Linked DNA regions of Homo sapiens: region 2 is linked to region 1. A link means that fine-mapping ties the variant in region 1 to the plasma level of a protein whose gene starts in the linked region. Region 1 holds a variant in brackets. A gene starts in the other region. All regions are shown on their reverse strands.

What was found. PIP is the chance, under the fine-mapping model, that this variant and not a neighbour inherited with it causes the effect. Protein levels are from antibody-based Olink assays in UK Biobank. Linkage for the fine-mapping came from a reference panel and not from the study's own genotypes, which makes the PIPs less certain.
Region 2: it holds the start of IL27, and the variant in region 1 is fine-mapped to the plasma level of the IL27 protein (UK Biobank, PIP 0.98).

The regions. Positions count from the first base shown.
Region 1 is chr10:100,066,167-100,074,495 of GRCh38, reverse strand. CPN1 (carboxypeptidase N subunit 1) reads left to right here. Exons shown (of 9, transcript NM_001308.3): 3 at 4,627-4,782. Among named protein-coding and RNA genes, the nearest start is that of CPN1, 12 kb to the left of the region's middle. The variant G/A (reference allele first, on the strand shown) is at 4,739.
Region 2 is chr16:28,498,896-28,507,224 of GRCh38, reverse strand. It overlaps IL27 (interleukin 27), which reads left to right and starts at 391. Exons shown (of 5, transcript NM_145659.3): 1 at 391-444; 2 at 3,175-3,347; 3 at 3,432-3,530; 4 at 5,091-5,249; 5 at 7,305-7,863. The coding sequence starts at 414. The coding sequence ends at 7,574. It overlaps APOBR (apolipoprotein B receptor), which reads right to left. Exons shown (of 4, transcript NM_018690.4): 4 at 8,261-8,329. RefSeq lists enhancers at 6,961-7,461, 7,462-7,962.

The sequences.
Region 1 (8,329 bases):
TGTGGTGAGCCGAGATCGTGCCATTGCACAGTCCTGCCCACATCCTTTGCAGTAGGTGGGGTGGGAGGGAGTGGGGAAAATCCCTGCCAGTCCACTGAATCTTAGAGCCATCTCTGGGAAGCTGGTCACCTCTGCTCACCTGCTGTGTTCTTGTTCAGAGGGAGCAGATCTTGAACCTGAACCCGAGAGGACCCATCAGGTTCTCAGACTCTCAGAGATACCTGCCATGCCCAGAGGCAAGCTGTCTGCGTGGCTACACAGAGAAGAACTTCCTGGCCACCAGACTTTGAAGCCACTTGTAGGTGGCCAGAATAATGCCCCCCACCAAAGATGTCCATGTCCTAATCCTCAGAACCTATGAATATGTTATGTTACTGGGCAAGGAGGAATTAAGGTTGCAGATGGAACTAAGGTTGCTAATCAGTTGACCTTAAAATAACCTGGAGTATTGTGGGGGGGGGATGGGGCCCAGTGTAATCAATTACGAGGGTCCTTTAAATGTAGAAGAGGGAGGCCAAAGGTCACAGTCAGAGAGAGCTCTGAAGATGTTACACGGCTGGCTTTAAAGATGGAAGAGCCTTGGCTGGGCGCCGTGGCTCAGGCCTGTAATCCCAGCACTTTGGGAGGCTGAAGTAGGAGGATCACCTGAGGTCAGAAGTTCAAGACCAGCCTGACCAACATGGAGAAACCCTGTCTCTACTAAAAATACAAAATTAGCCAGGCGTGGTAACACATGCCTGTAATCCCAGCTACTCGGGAGGCTGAGGCAGGAGAATCACTTGAACCTGGGAGATGAAGGTTGCGGTGAGCTGAGATCACGCCATTGCACTCCAGCCTGGGCAACAAGAGCAAAACTCTGTCTCAAAAAAAAAAAAAAAAAAAAAAGATGGAAGAGCCAAGGAATGTGAATGATCTCTAGAAACTGGAGAGACACCTTGCTTTTAGGCCTGTGAGACCCGTTTTAGTCTTCTGACCTCCAAAACTATGAGACAATACACTCGTGCTGTTTTAAACCACTAAATTTGGGGTAATTTGTTACAGCAGTAATAGGAAACACAACACTAGCCCTGTTTATGAAACCTTCTGTTAGGGGAAGCCCCTTCCTGCCAACTTAACTATTGACCAGTGTGCAGGGAAATCAGTGGATAATGCCCATAGCTGTTTATGCTGACAGTCAAGAGTTGCCTTGATATAAATAAGCAAGCAGTGACAAGCCCCTGGAAGCATAAAGAAAATCATTATGTCACAGAAGTGTACACCAAAATGAAAGATCCAATAAATGTTTTCCACTGGAACACAACTGATGTAGGAAACTTAAAGGAACTTCAAAACAATTATGTTTTCAATAGGATCTAAAAATGAAATACAAGCAGGGTGCCATGAAAAGAGGAGAAATCTGAGAATAATACTGAATTCTTAGAAAAAAATGTAATCTGCCGCATTTTATTGGTTAGAAAAGGGAAAATATGAGAACGGCGATTCATCTGTGAGATTGTAGCTTCCCGGCATCCATTCATTCACTTCCAGGAACAGCCAACAATTTGGGCTCCACCTTCTCAGTCTACAGGGACCCAGTTGGCACTATTTCCCTTCTCCAATGCCACACAAAACATTAAATGGAATTTCAATTTTGAATGAGCCTTTTAACATATCTCTATTCTATCACTCTATGTATTTAATTATTTATGTGTGTGTCCATCTCCCCATGTGTACTATGAATTCCTAGAAGGCTAGACTACAATGTCTCACTTATCTCTTTCCCCAGTGTCTATCTGAGAGCTCTGAATAGAGAAGGACTTAAGTAAATGTTGGTTGACTAAATAGATGACCTAATGAGTGAGTGAATACATGAGCAAATAAATGATAAAATCTGAAATATGGACAGAGAAATTAAGGGATCCAGAAAGTTGATATTGCTCAAAAGAAAGATAAGTAAGCATCCTAAATTTTTTGAAGGGGGGAGGAGTGAGTTTCCATAGTGTAACCACTTTGAAAAACAGTTTAACAGTTTCTCAAAAAGTTAAACATAAGGCCGTAGTGGCTCACGTCTGTTAATCCCAGCACTTTGGGAGGTGGGTGGATCACTTGAGCCTAGAAGTTTGAGACCAGCGTAGGCAACATGGCAAAACCCCATCTTTACAAATAATTTAAAATTAGCCAGGTGTTGTGGCGCGTGCCTGTAAACACCAGCTACCAGGAGGCTGAGGTGGGAGGATCACCTGAGCCCAGGAGGTTGAGGCTGCAGTGAGCCATGATCATGCTGTTATACTCCAGCCTAGGCAACAGAGTGAGACCCTGTCTCAAAACAAAAACAAAAACAAACAACAAAAAACAGTTAAACATGGACTTAGCTTATGACTCGGCAGTTCTACTTACAGATATCTACCCAGAGGAAATGAAAACATACATCCACACAAAGACTTGTACGTGGATGTTCAAAGCAGCATTATTAACAATAGCCAAAAGGTGAAAACAACCCAAATGTCCATGAATCTCCCCCTACCACCCTTCGCCAAAATTCGCATTCACCTGAAATCTGTGACTATGATCTTATTTGGAAATACATAGTCATCCTTCAGTATCCGTAGGTGATTGATTCCAGGGCCCCCCACCAATATCAAAATCCTTGGATGCTCAAGTCCCTTATATAAAATGGCATAGTATTTGCACATAACTTATGCACATCCTCCTGTATACTTTAAATCATCCCTAGGTTACTTATGTTACCCAGTACAATGTAAATGCTATGTAAACAGTTGTTATAATGTACTGTTTAAGGAATAATGACAAGAAAAAAGTATGTACATATTCAGTACAGATGCAACCATCATAGGCCTAACTACATTTTCAATCAGAGGTTGGTTGAATCCACACATGTGGAACCCATGGATATGGAGGGCCTACTGAGGGTCTTTACGGATACAATTGAGATGAGGTCACCTAGAATCAGGATGGACTCTAAATCCAGCATAACTGGTGTCCTTGTAAGAAGAAAGAAATTTGCGAATAGAGATGCAGACAGACTGGGGAGGAGGCCATATGAAGATGAAAGCAGAAATTAGAGTGATGGGTCTAAGAGCCAAAGAATGCCAAGGACTTCCTCTGGCCACCAGAACCTGGAAGAAACAAAGAAGGGGACCAGAGAGCGTGCCGCCCATCCAGTTGACTTGATTACAACTTCTAGCCTCCAGAGAATAAATTGGAGAATAAATTGCTGTTGTTATAAACCACCTAGTTTGTGGTGATTGTTATGGCAGCCCTAGGAAACTAACACAGTTTCCTAATACTAATAGTATTAAACTAATACTAATACTGGTGAATGGATAAACAAAATGTGATAAATCCACATAATGGAACTATTCAGCAATAGAAAGAAATGAAGTACTGATACATGCTACAACATACATGAACCTCACAAACATTATGCCCAGTGTGGGGGAAAAACCCACAAAAGAACAGATAATGTATGACCCACTTATGTGATCTGTCCAGAAGAGGCAAGTCTAAGGAGAGATAAAGTTATTACCTACGCTAGGATGAAAATGAGAAGTGACTGTAAATGGGAATGAGGTGTCTATTTGGTGTGACAGAAATGTTCTAAAATTAGATTGCAATGATGATTATACAACTCCGTAAACATACTAAAATTCATTGAATTGTACATTTAAAATGAGCAAATTTTATAGTATGTGAATTATATCTCAATAAAGCTGTTCATAAAACATTGGGGTTCCCATGATCCCGAAACACCCTACTCTTATTAGAACTTCTCTTGAGATATGTACCTCTTACACGTGATCTGCAGGGAACTTGAAGTCCACCACTGTGACTTTGGATAAGTCAAAGTAGAAAATGATTCATCTTCTTGTGACGGGGACTAAAGGAAAAAAAATGCTACATCATTTGATTAAGCTAATATCTAAGAACTATACAATGTGCTTCAAATATAGGATTCATGGCTGCATGTAGTAGCTCTTGCCTGTAATCTCAGCACTTTGTTTGGTTTGTTTTTTTTAGACAGAGCCTTGCTCTGTCACCCAGGCTGTAGTGCAATGGCATGTTCTTGGCCCATTGCAACCTCACTTCCTGAGTTTAAGTGATTCTCGTGCCTCAGCCTCCCAAGTAGCTGGGACTACAGGCACACGCCACCACACCCAGCTAATTTTTGTATTTTTTAGTAGAGATGGTGTTTCACCATTTTGGCCAGGCTGATCTTGAACTTCTGACCTCAAGTGATCCACCTGCCTCCGCCTCCCAAAGTGCTGAGATTACAGGTGTGAGCCACTGCACCTGGCCTCTCAGCACTTTGGAAGGGCGAGGTGGGTGGATCACTTGAGCCCAGGAGTTTGATACCAGCCTGGGCAACCAGCCTCATCTCTACCAAAAAAAGAAAAGAATAAAGAACAATTAGCGGGTGTGGTGGTGTGTGCTTGTAGTCCCAGCTACTCAGGAGACTGAGGTGGGAGGATTGCTTGAGCCCAGTAGGTAGAGGTTGCAGTAAGCCAAGATTGTACCACTGCACTTCAGCCTGGGCAACAGTGTGAGAACCTGTCTCCAAAAAAAAAAGTTAGAAAATATAGTATTCAATCTGAAACCTTCATTTTTCATCTTTTCATTTTCCTTTAGGGCCCAAACAAGCCTGGGTATCTAGTTGGCAGGAACAATGCAAATGGAGTGGACCTGAACCGCAACTTCCCTGATCTCAATACCTATATCTACTATAACGAGAAGTACGGAG[G/A]CCCCAACCACCACCTGCCCCTTCCAGACAACTGGAAAAGTCAGGTAGGAGATGAAATTTGCAAACAAAGCAGGTAAATCAGCATCTGGAATTTCTTGCAGAAAGACTGCTAAGCCATCTTTACATCAACTAAACAAGCAAGAATTAAGCATCAACTCAACTCAGTATTAACCCATCTAGAGCAATAATATATATTTCTTCCGTGTCTTTGTATTTATTTTCTCCTCAGCATAGAGCCCTCCATGGAGCACACACTAAGTGATTTTTTTTTTTTTTTAAGACAGAGTCTCGCTCTGTCGCCCAGGCTGGAGTGTAATGGTGCGATCTCAGCTCACTGCAGCCTTCGCCTCCCAGGTCCAAGAGATTCTCCTGCCTCAGCCTCCTGAGTAGCTGGGATTAAAGATGCACACCACCATGCCCAGCTAATTTTTGTATTTTTAGTAGAGACGGGGTTTCACCGTTTGACCAGGCTGGTCTCAAACTCCTGACTTCGTGATCTGCCTGCCTCAGCCTCCCAAAGTGCTGGGATTACAGGCGTGAGCCACCGTGCCTGGTTAAATGTTTGATATTAGTGGTGATTGTGGTGAAGGATATGAAAGCAGTATCATTTGGTTGCATGGTTCTTAACAATTTTCCAGAATTATTTCACAGCCAGTTTCAGTTGATCATGACATCATGTGAAATGCACCAAGCAGTGTTATCCATCTCTGTTTTATAGCTATTACACTTAGAGAGAAAATAATTTACATTCTCACAGGTAGTGATTGATGGAATCGGGATGAAGATGCAGGCCTTCTGATTCTTATTCCAACATTCTTTCTACTACACTAGACTGTGGACAGAAGCATTCTATAGAGACGTCTGTCTTACTCGTGATAAGCTGTGTGCTTACCAACAATTAGCTATAGAAAGAGGCTCAGGCTGGGTGTGGTGTCTCACACCTGTAATCCCAGCACTTTGGGAAGCTGAGACGGGAGGATTGCTTGAGGTCAGGAGTTTGAGACTAGCCTGGGCAACACAGTGAGGCCCCATCTCTACAAAATAAAAATACAAAATTTAGCTGGGTGTAGTGGCACATGTCATAGACTTAGCTATTTGGGAGGATCCCTTGAAGGAGTTTAAGAGTTCAAGGTTACAGTGAACTATTGTCCTGCCTGCTCCAGCCTGGGTGACAGAGCAAGAGACCCTGTCTCCAAAACAAACAAACAAAAAAAAAGTTCAAGGAATCTAACCCTTAGTTTTCGGGACTGGGCGCGGTGGCTCACGCCTGTAATCCCAGCACTTTGGGAGGCCGAGGCGGGCGGATCACGAGGTCAGGAGATCGAGACCATCCTGGCTAACATGGTGAAACCCCATCTCTACTAAAAATACAAAAAATTAGCCAGGCGTGGTGGCGGGCGCCTGCAGTCCCAGCTACTTGGGAGGCTGAGGCAGGAGAATGGCATGAGCCTGGGAGGCAGAGGTTGCAGTGAGCTGAGATAGTGCCACTGCACTCCAGCTTGGGTGACAGAGCGAGACTCCGTCTCAAAAAAAAAAAAAAAAAAGTTCAGGGAATCTAACCCTTAGTTTTTTCTTTTCCCTTTCTTTCTTTTTTTTTTTTTTTGAGACAGAGTCTTGCTCTTTTACCCTCCAGGCTGGAGTGCAGTGGCACAATCTTGGCTCACTGCAACCTCTTCCTCCTGGGTTCAAGCGATTCTCCTGCCTCAGTCTCCTGAGTAGCTGGGATTACAGGCACGTGCCACCACCCCTGGCCAATTTTTGTATTTTTAGTAGAGACAGGGTTTTACCATGTTGGTCAGGCTGGTCTCGAACTCCTGGCCTTGTGATCTGCCCACCTCAGCCTCCCAAAGTGCTGGGATTACAGGTGTGAGCCACCACACCTGGCCCCTTTTCCCCTTCTATATGACCTTTGACTACTTTATCATTACTATACCCTCCCTGATTTCCCTTACTCTTCCAATCAGAGGATCCCATTCCATATTCCTAGGCCTCACTCTCCAAGAGGCCTATAATGGAAGTCCTTGGTAATGTGAGTGGTTTCACCCTGCTGGTGGGCCTGCTCCTGAAAATAACTAGGCATTCTCTAAGCATCACTGCCACCCCTGGTGATCACGCTGTGTGGGATAGTTTGAAATGTTCTATTTGTGAATGTCTAAATTTAGAGACTGGGGAAAGAAAAGCAAAGCAGGTGTAAGCCTTTTAATTGGGAGTTTCCCAAATGGAGTATTCTGGGGTTTTTTTCTCCCTTGAAAATGAAGCAAAAGCCATGCTGACATGTTAGATTTCAAACAGCAACTATCCTCTTGGTTCAAGTAAATAGTAAATAAAAAATAACTTTGTAAGGCTGGGCGCAGTGGCTCACACCTGTAATCCCAGCACTTTGGGAGGCAGAAGCGGGCAGATCAGCTGAGGTCAGGAGTTCGAGACCAGCCTGGCTAACATGGTGAAACCCCATCCTACTAAAAATACAAAAATTAGCCAGCTGTGGTGGTGGGCGCCTATAATCCCAGCTACTTGGGAGGCTGAAGCAGGAGAATTGCTTGAACCCAGATGGCGGAGGTTGCAGATGGCATCACTGCACTCTAGTCTGGGCGACAGATCAAGACTCCATCTCACAAAAAAACCAAAACCAAAACCAAAAAGCAAAGAACTTCGTGTTAGTCAGGATATCCAACCAGAAGAATGTTCTGATGTAATAAACTTGTTTCTCTAAGTAAAATAAGGTAATTGAATCAATGATAACTAGGCTCCCACTCAATCCTCTGTCTAAATTTTAGGGGGAAAAGCAAAGAGGTTTCCCTCGCTCCTGATGGAATATCCTTGAGGAAGAGGAACAGTGAAAAGCTGGCCTTGTTCTGATAGAGGCTTAGGACACAAAGACAGAACTGCCCCAGAGGGTCTGAGCCCTGGTCACAGACCAAGACTGGTGCCCTCGCAATTATATTCATTCTGATTAAGACTCAACCCTATTTATCCAGTCCCCTTGGGATGGAAAAGATGGAGCCTGTAGAGCTGACCTTGGTCCAGAAGGAGCCATTAACACAGTAACACTACATAATCTCTAAACTTGTTCATCCTGAGAGGAGGAAAAATGCTGTAGACTGTAAATTATTTACTTACACTGCAAGTCCCAGTGGATTCAAGGCTTTCTTTGGAATATTGTCACTCACTAGCAATATAATATGCAATAGAAAGGTGGAATTTCACTGCTTAGCCAAGACTGGCCCATCTGACAGTATGTCTAACCCATGAAATTTGGATTTGACCACAGGAGTGTGTTCTACATGTCAATATTACAGCAGGGAGGAAGGAGGTTGAAAACCATCACTGTAAACTAGCATTTTTAAGATTGATTTATTGGAGTCCTAAATTTCTGCTAAGATGACTTAGAAGTCACTGGAGCAGTGGGTAAAATGGGAAACCCTTTTCTAGGGTCCAGAGAGAGGCCAAGTTGGGGCTCTGAGCTCTCCAATCATGATATCTCTTCATACAGAACTTCTCTTTTTTGGCTGGGAATGGTGGCTCACGCCTGTAATCCCAACACTTTGGGAGGTGGAGATGGGCACATTGCTTGAGGAGCTCAAGACCAGC
Region 2 (8,329 bases), not on the chromosome of region 1:
GCAATCCCCTTACCTGGCTATCCATCTTTGGAAGGACAGTAGACCCTAGGATGATGGTGGCAGAGCCGAGAATCAGGAGGGGGTTTGGGACTCTGGGATCAACCAGTGAATAGGGCTGGATGGCTCACCCAAGCATGGGACATTGAGGACAGGGCTGGACGTGGGAGCTTAGCAGTGAGTCTGGAGCTTGGATGTCCCGAAACCCCAGCTTCCCGTCACCCCCCATCATACCTCCCACCCCCTCCGGGAAGGGAAATTACATTTCCCCATTTTAGCAAGGGGTGGCGAGAGGGAAGAATGAGTGAACACAAAGCTGAAAGTACAAGCAGGACGGAAAGTGAAACCGGGCACAGCCCCCAGTATAAGACCCCCCCTACCCAGGAGATGGCTGACCAAAGAGGCTGGGCCCCGCCATGGGCCAGACGGCAGGCGACCTTGGCTGGCGTGAGTTTGAAGCCAGGGGTGGGGGGCTTGGTTGAGTTTGGGCAGAGAATGGACGAGCTTGGCTGGTGCAGATGGGGGGTCGAGAGCTGAGAGCAGCAACTTGGCCAAGACTGAGGATTCGGCTGGCTGCTGCATGGGAAGGGAGGCTGGCATGACTGGGTGGGGGCCTGGGGCAGTGGGGTGGTGGTCTGACCCAGGGCTGGGCAGAGGATGAGAAGGAGGCCTTGGCTAGTGGGAATGGGGAGGGTTGGACCAGCAATTTGACAAGGACCAGGTCTAGGCAGATAAATGAAGAGTTTGGAGTGAATAAGCAGAAGCCAAACAGCTTGGCTAAGACTGAGAATGGGGCCGGCTGGAGGAAGAGCAGAACGAGGTGCTGGCACAAGTGGAGCACTGGGACCAAGATGTCAGCAGCCTCACTGGGTCAAAGGTCTTTAGTTTGATGTTGGAAAGAGGTCCAATCTGCGGCTGGTGGCTGCAGAACTCAGGGGCTAGAACCAGAGCAGTAGGCAGTGGAGAAGGTAACATGCCACGTAGGGCAGGTAGGGACCAAAGGCTGGAGGATGGAGACAGAGCCTTCAAAGGCCAGAGCCAATGACCCAGGATCAGCTGCAGAGGGTAAGGAGGGGGTCTGGGGTCTCCAGAGGTCAGGTTGGAGATGGCACAGCTCACTTACGGTTGGGCTTGATCCACCAGGGCCTGGGGGCACCCACCCTGTCCCCAACATTGAGCTAGGAAGAACCCCACTCTGCCTTAAGTCTCCAGGATGTCAGAGGGTCCGAGTGGCCCCAAAACCAGGGAGTCTGAATGCCAGAGATCTTACGTTAGGCATCGCCCACCACATCTGCAAGCCCACGAGGGAGGTAGATGTCCCTAGAAGCTCCCCTTCACCTTTATCAGGGGACATTTCGAAGAGCAGAGCCCAGGGGTTAGAGATTGAGAGAGGACAGGGAAGAGGCAGGGAGAGAAGGGAGAGCAGGATGGACTTCGGGCCAGTTTTGGTTTGTGTTTCGAGGAGAATTGTGTAACTCTTGTGCTTGCTAGATTTCCTCTCCCTGAGGGGGAAATTGATGAATGCTGCCCTCTTCCTAGAGCGCCCATCCGCTGCCCCTCTTTCCAGGAAAACACAGGTCAGGAAGCACACTCGGAATTCAGCCATTCTGGGCTGGGCGCAGTGGCTGATGTCTGTAATCCCAGCACTTTGGGAGGCCAAGGCAGGCGGATCACCTGAGGTCAGGAGTTGGAGACCAGCCTGGCCAACACGGCAAAACCCCTCTCTACTAAATATAATAAAAATTAGCCAGGCGTGGTGGCTACTCAGGAGGCTGAGGCAGGAGAATTGCTTTAACCTGGGAGGTGAAGGTTGCAGTGAGTCGAGATCGCGCCACTGCACTGCAGCCTGGGTGACAGAGTGAGAATCTGTCTTAAAAAAAAAAAAGCTCCCATACTGTGGATTCGCCCCAGGCAGGTTACCCTGCTAGGATCCACCTGCCGTGGTGGAAACTGGACAAACCTGTCCTTTTGACTCCCTGGAATAGAGCCTCTGGCATTGCCAGCCCATCCCTGGGGACCTCATGGCCAGTTCAAGCCATCAGAGCCGCTTGGCTGAGCCCAAAGAATCCTTGCCAGAACATGGTGTGCCCACTCCTGGGGCAGATGGCTGCCTCCCTCTGCATTCTCTGGGGAAAACCCATGGGCTCTGCATTTGGAAAAACCTGGAATCCAGTCCTGGCTTCCCACCTTCTGGCTATTTGACCTTGGGCAAGTCAACCTCACTGAGCCTCACCTGCAAATTGGGGAGAACAATAGCACTGAGGCTGCCACACGTGGTTGTGCAGGTTGCTCACTGAAAAAGGCATTTGGCCAAGGGAGTTTATGGGGGTCAAAATCCAGTCTCTGTCCCGGCACAGTGGCTCATGCCTGTGATCCCAGCAATTTGGGAGGCTGAGGCGGGAAGATCTCTTGAGGCCAGGAGTTCAAGACCAGCCTGGGCAACATAGTGAGACCCTGTCTCTACAAAAAAATAGAAACAGTTAGGCACAGTGGTGTGTCCCTGTGATCCCAGCTACTTGGGAGGCTGAGGCGAGAGGATCACTTGAGCCTAGGAGTTCAAGGCTACAGTGAGCTGTGATCACACCACTACACTCCAGGCTGGGTGATAGAACAGAACTCTGTTTCAAAAAAAAAAAAAAAGGATCAGGCTTCTGGTCTTTTTGCAAAAGTGGGCACACCATGCGGAGATGCCATATGGGGGCCGTGCTGGCTGCATCGTGGGGTTTTGTTTTGTTTTGTTTTGTTTTGTTTTTTTGAGACAGAGTCTGGCTCTGTCGCCCAGGCTGGAGCACAGTGGTGTTAGCTCACTGCAGCCTCTGCCTCCCAGGTTCAAGCGATTCTCCTGCCTCAACCTCCTGAGTAGCTGGGATTACAGGCATGCACCACCACGCCCAACTAATTTTTGTATTTTTAGTAGAGACAGGGTTTCGCCATGTTGGCCAGGCTGGTCTTGAACTCCTGGCCTCAGGTGATCCGCCCGCCTCGGTCTCCTAAATTGTTGGGATTACAGGTGTGAGTCACCGCACCCAGCCTCCATTGTGGTTTTGAGGAGGCAGAGGAATGATGCTGGTCAAAGTGCCTGCACCGTGCTCACAGCTAGCACAGGCTCAGAAAAGGCATGTTCCCTTCCTTCTCAAGCTCTCTCCCTGTCTTGCCACCCTCTTCCCATCTCTCCAGGGCTCAGCCTGTTGCTGCTTCCCTTGCTCCTGGTTCAAGCTGGTGTCTGGGGATTCCCAAGGCCCCCAGGGAGGCCCCAGCTGAGCCTGCAGGAGCTGCGGAGGGAGTTCACAGTCAGCCTGCATCTCGCCAGGAAGCTGCTCTCCGAGGTTCGGGGCCAGGCCCACCGCTTTGTAAGTCCCCCTAATGCAGCTGGCGCTGGAGATGGGCAGACCCCCAATCCCTTCTGGCCCCCACTAACAGACCTTGCCCCCCAGGCGGAATCTCACCTGCCAGGAGTGAACCTGTACCTCCTGCCCCTGGGAGAGCAGCTCCCTGATGTTTCCCTGACCTTCCAGGCCTGGCGCCGCCTCTCTGTGAGTGAGGGCTGGTGGAGTGGGGCGGGAAGCTTGTGATAGGCTGGGGCCAGGGTGCAAGATGAGGCTGGAGATTGAGCTGGAGATGCATTGGGGATAGAACCTGGATAAGGCTGAATATGTCATTGGACATAGAGATGAAAGACAGGCATGGTGACTTACACCTATAAACCCAGCACTTTGGGAGGCCCAGGTGGAAGGACTGCTTGAGGCCAGGAGTTCAAGACCAGTCTGGGCAACATAGTGAAACTTTGTCTCTACAAAAAAAAATTTAAGAGTTAGCCAGGCATGGTGGTGTACACCTTTGGTCCCAGCTACTCAGGAGGCTGACATGGGAGGATTGCTTGAGCTCAGGAGTTGGAGGCTGCAGTGAGTTATGATCCTGGACTCCAGGATGGAGAACAGAGGGAAACCCTGTCTCAGAAAAATAAATAAACTGCCAGGCGTGGTGGCTCATGCCTGTAATCCCAGCACGTTGGGAGGCTGAGGAGCACGGATCACCTGAGGTCAAGAGTTCAAGACCAGCCTGGCCAACATGGCGAAACCCCATCTCTACTAAAAAATACAAAAATTAGCTGAGCGCAGTGGCTCACGACTGTAATCCCAGCACTGTGGGAGGCTGATGTGGGTGGATCACCTGAGGTCAGGAGTTCGAGACCAGCCTGACCAACATGAAGAAACCCCACCTCTACTAAAAATACCAAATTAGCCGGGTATGGTGCTGTGCGCCTGTAATCCCAGCTACTCGGGAGGCTGAGGCAGGAGAATTACTTGAACCCAGGAGGTGGAGGTTGCAGTGAGATGAGATCGCGCCACTGCACTCCAGCCTGGGCAACAGAGCGAGACTCCATCTCAAAACAAACCAACAATAAAGATGAAGCTGGAATAAGGAAGTGGGGTTGGGAAGAGGTAAGAGTGGAGCTAGGCATGGAACGCGGCAGGCATGGGACTGGAATGAGGCTGGAGACAGATCACAGCAGCATGGAGGGTGGGTGGAGGTGGCACTGGGGGTGAGAATGCGGATAGTTAGAGATGAGAAGGTGATGATGAGGGTGAACGTTAAGCATGGGATGGAGAAGGGATGGGGATTGCTGGTGGGGAAGGGAATGGAATAGGGTTAGGAATGAGGTTGGAGATGGGATGGAAAGATGGAAAGAGTGAGTCTGGGCACATGGAGGAAGGATGGAGTTGGGGTTAGGAATGGGAATGAGGCTGAAGATGGGATGGAAACACATGGGCAGGAGGTATGATGGGATGGTGGAGGAGGGAAGGGAACAGGGCTGTGGATGGAGAGTGCTTCAGGGACTGAGAGGGGGTGGGTTAGAGAAGATCATTGGCATAGGAGTGAAAGGGAGGCTGGAAAAGGAGATGGGACAAATGTCCCAGACAGTGGAGATGGAAGGAATGGGGACACAGCTGGGCTGAGGTGGGGGAAGAGCTACAGGGATGGACTGGAGGCTGGAGCGTGGAATGGGAAGGAGACCCGGATAGGGAGGGGGTGGGTGTGATATGGCCATCCTTGGCCTGTGGACCTTTCCTGACCATCTCCCTCCCCTTCAGGACCCGGAGCGTCTCTGCTTCATCTCCACCACGCTTCAGCCCTTCCATGCCCTGCTGGGAGGGCTGGGGACCCAGGGCCGCTGGACCAACATGGAGAGGATGCAGCTGTGGGCCATGAGGCTGGACCTCCGCGATCTGCAGCGGCACCTCCGCTTCCAGGTAGAGCCCGGCCACCCTCCACCACCCCAGACCACGTGGGAAAGAAGACTCGCTGGCTCATTCAGTGATCCCATGCTCTGAGTGTGTGTGAGTGTGAGAGTGTGAGTGTGACTGAGTGTCCATGAGTGTGTGGGTTCATGAGTGTGAGAGTGACTGTGTGGGTCCGTAAGTGTGGGAGAGTGAGTGTGACTGTGTGGGTCCATGAGTGTGACAGTGTGACTGTGAGAGTGTGTGAGTGTGGGTCTGTGAGTGTGAGAGTGTGTGGGAGTGACTGTGAGTGCATGTGGGTCTGTATGAGTGTGAGCATGACTGTGTGTGAGGGTGTGGGTCCGTGAGTGTGAGAGTGAGTGTGTGGGTCTGTGTGAGTGTACCTGACTGTGAGAGTGTGTGGGTGTGACTGTGAGTGTGTGTGTGGGGGGGCTGTATGAGTGTGAGCATGACTGTGTGTATGTGCGTCCGTGTGTGAGTGTGACTGTGAGTGTGTGGGTCTGAGTGTGAAAGTGTGTGGCTGTGAGTGTGTGAGTGTGTGGGTGTGACTGTGAGTGTGTGTGGGTCTGTATGAGTGTGAGCGTGACCGTGTGTGTGTAGGTCCATGAGTGTGAGACTGTGAGTGTATGGGACTGTGAGTGTAAGAGTGTGGGAGTGTGTGGGTGGGTGTGTGAATGTGAGTGTTGTGAGTGTGAAAGTGAGGTGTGTGGGTGAGAGTTTGGGTATAGGTATGTCAGTGTGTGAGGATGAGTGTGAGTGTGAGAGTATGTGGGTACGTGAACGATTTTTTTTTTTTTCTGAGACTAAGTCTCACTCTGTCGCCCAGGCTGGAGTGCAGCGGTGCGATCTCAGCTCACTGTAACATCTGCCTCCCAGGTTCAAGCAATTCTCCTGCCTCAGCCTCCTGAGTAGCTAGGACTACAGGCGTGCACCATCATGCCTGGCTAATTTTTTTGTATTTTTAGTTTCACCATGTTGGCCAGGCTGGTCTCAGACTCCTGACCTCGCGCTCTGCCCGCCTCGGCTTCCCAAAGTGCTGGGATTACAGGCGTGAGCCACTGTGCCCAGCCATGAATGTGTTTTGTGTGAATGTGACTGTATGGGAATGAGTGTGGGTGCGTTGTGAGAATGAGTATGTGTGTGAGTGTGTGCGTGTGTGCAGGCGCACACACAGCCACACCAGGCCCTGGTGCTGCCCCTCAATCTTCACATTCTCCTGGGGCTCTATCTTCAACAGGAGGCCATTGGGCTGTGAGGTCACTCGGGGTGTGTCCTGAGTGCCCAGCACAGCGTCTGCCTCCTGTTTCCTTTCTCCCTCTGATTCTCTGATGTCACCCAGATCCTCCAGAACCTTTCAAAGGGAAATCAGAATTTTACACTTAATGAAATGAGAATAGAAAATGCAAGCAGCAGGGCTGGGCGTGGTGGCTCACGCCTGGAATCCCAGCACTTTAGGAGGCCAAAGCGGGTGGATCATTTGAGGTCAGGAGTTCGAGACCAGCCTGGCCAACATGGTAAAACCCCATCTCTACTAAAAATACAAAAATTAGTCGGGCGTGGTGGTGCGCGTCTGTAGTCCCAGCTACTCAGGAGGCTGAGGTAGGAGAATTGCTTGAACTGGGGAGACAGAGGTTGCAGTGAGCCGTGATCACCCCACTGCACTCCAGCCTGGGCGACAGAGCGGGGCTCCCAAGAAAGAGAGAGAGAGAGGAATGGCAAGCAGCAGGGAATCTGAGCTATGTCACCCTCTGCCTGTTGCTGACCCGACCCAAAAGCAACTTTCACAGCAGAGAGAAACTTCCTGAACCCCACGCCTCGGGGCAGTCCTTGGGGTGATCTAGCTCTGTGAGCATCCTCTTGCTCCTTGACTTCCATTTTCTCGAACTGAAAGATCAGGTGAGACGCGTTAGCAGGTGACATCATGGAAGATCAAGCAGGGAATGTCCGGGGAAATCATGACCTTGTGGTCACTGATGTCATTGGGAACCGCTGGGCATGAATAGGGAATGAGGATTCCTCTCAGGTTCTCGGCCTGGCCCCTCCCTGACCCATGGCCTCTCCTCACAGGTGCTGGCTGCAGGATTCAACCTCCCGGAGGAGGAGGAGGAGGAAGAGGAGGAGGAGGAGGAGGAGAGGAAGGGGCTGCTCCCAGGGGCACTGGGCAGCGCCTTACAGGGCCCGGCCCAGGTGTCCTGGCCCCAGCTCCTCTCCACCTACCGCCTGCTGCACTCCTTGGAGCTCGTCTTATCTCGGGCCGTGCGGGAGTTGCTGCTGCTGTCCAAGGCTGGGCACTCAGTCTGGCCCTTGGGGTTCCCAACATTGAGCCCCCAGCCCTGATCGGTGGCTTCTTAGCCCCCTGCCCCCCACCCTTTAGAACTTTAGGACTGGAGTCTTGGCATCAGGGCAGCCTTCGCATCATCAGCCTTGGACAAGGGAGGGCTCTTCCAGCCCCCTGCCCCAGGCTCTACCCAGTAACTGAAAGCCCCTCTGGTCCTCGCCAGCTATTTATTTCTTGGATATTTATTTATTGTTTAGGGAGATGATGGTTTATTTATTGTCTTGGGGCCCGATGGTCCTCCTCGGGCCAAGCCCCCATGCTGGGTGCCCAATAAAGCACTCTCATCCACCCCTGGCCTCCGCTTCTCTTCGGGTAAGGGCTGTCTGACACCCAGAGGGCAGGGCAGCCTGGAACGGGGTCAGCAACCTCTAGCCATCCTGAACCCCTCTCTGCTCCTACATTTTTGGGGTCTCTGGCCCACCTTCCCCTACTATGTCCTGCTCCGGCAGGCAGTTGCCATAGTAACCAGCAGCATCCTGAGGCCGAGCTACCGTGTTGGAAGCTCAAGGCAGCTCATCTCTGATTCTGAACAGTGCTCCTTAAGCCCTCCCAACCGCCTTCCTTTGGCCTGGATGCAGCTCCAGAGGTTTGTGTTATCCCCGCCCAGTTCTGAGGGTCTTGGTGCAGGGAGTTGGGCTGGGAAGTGGGAGTTAGAGAGGAAGGCCTGTAAGGAAAATGGTCGCTGTTCCCTCAGTCTTCCTTGCAGTCTTTATTGTTTTATTTTGTTTTTAAAAGATGGGGATCTTGCTATGCT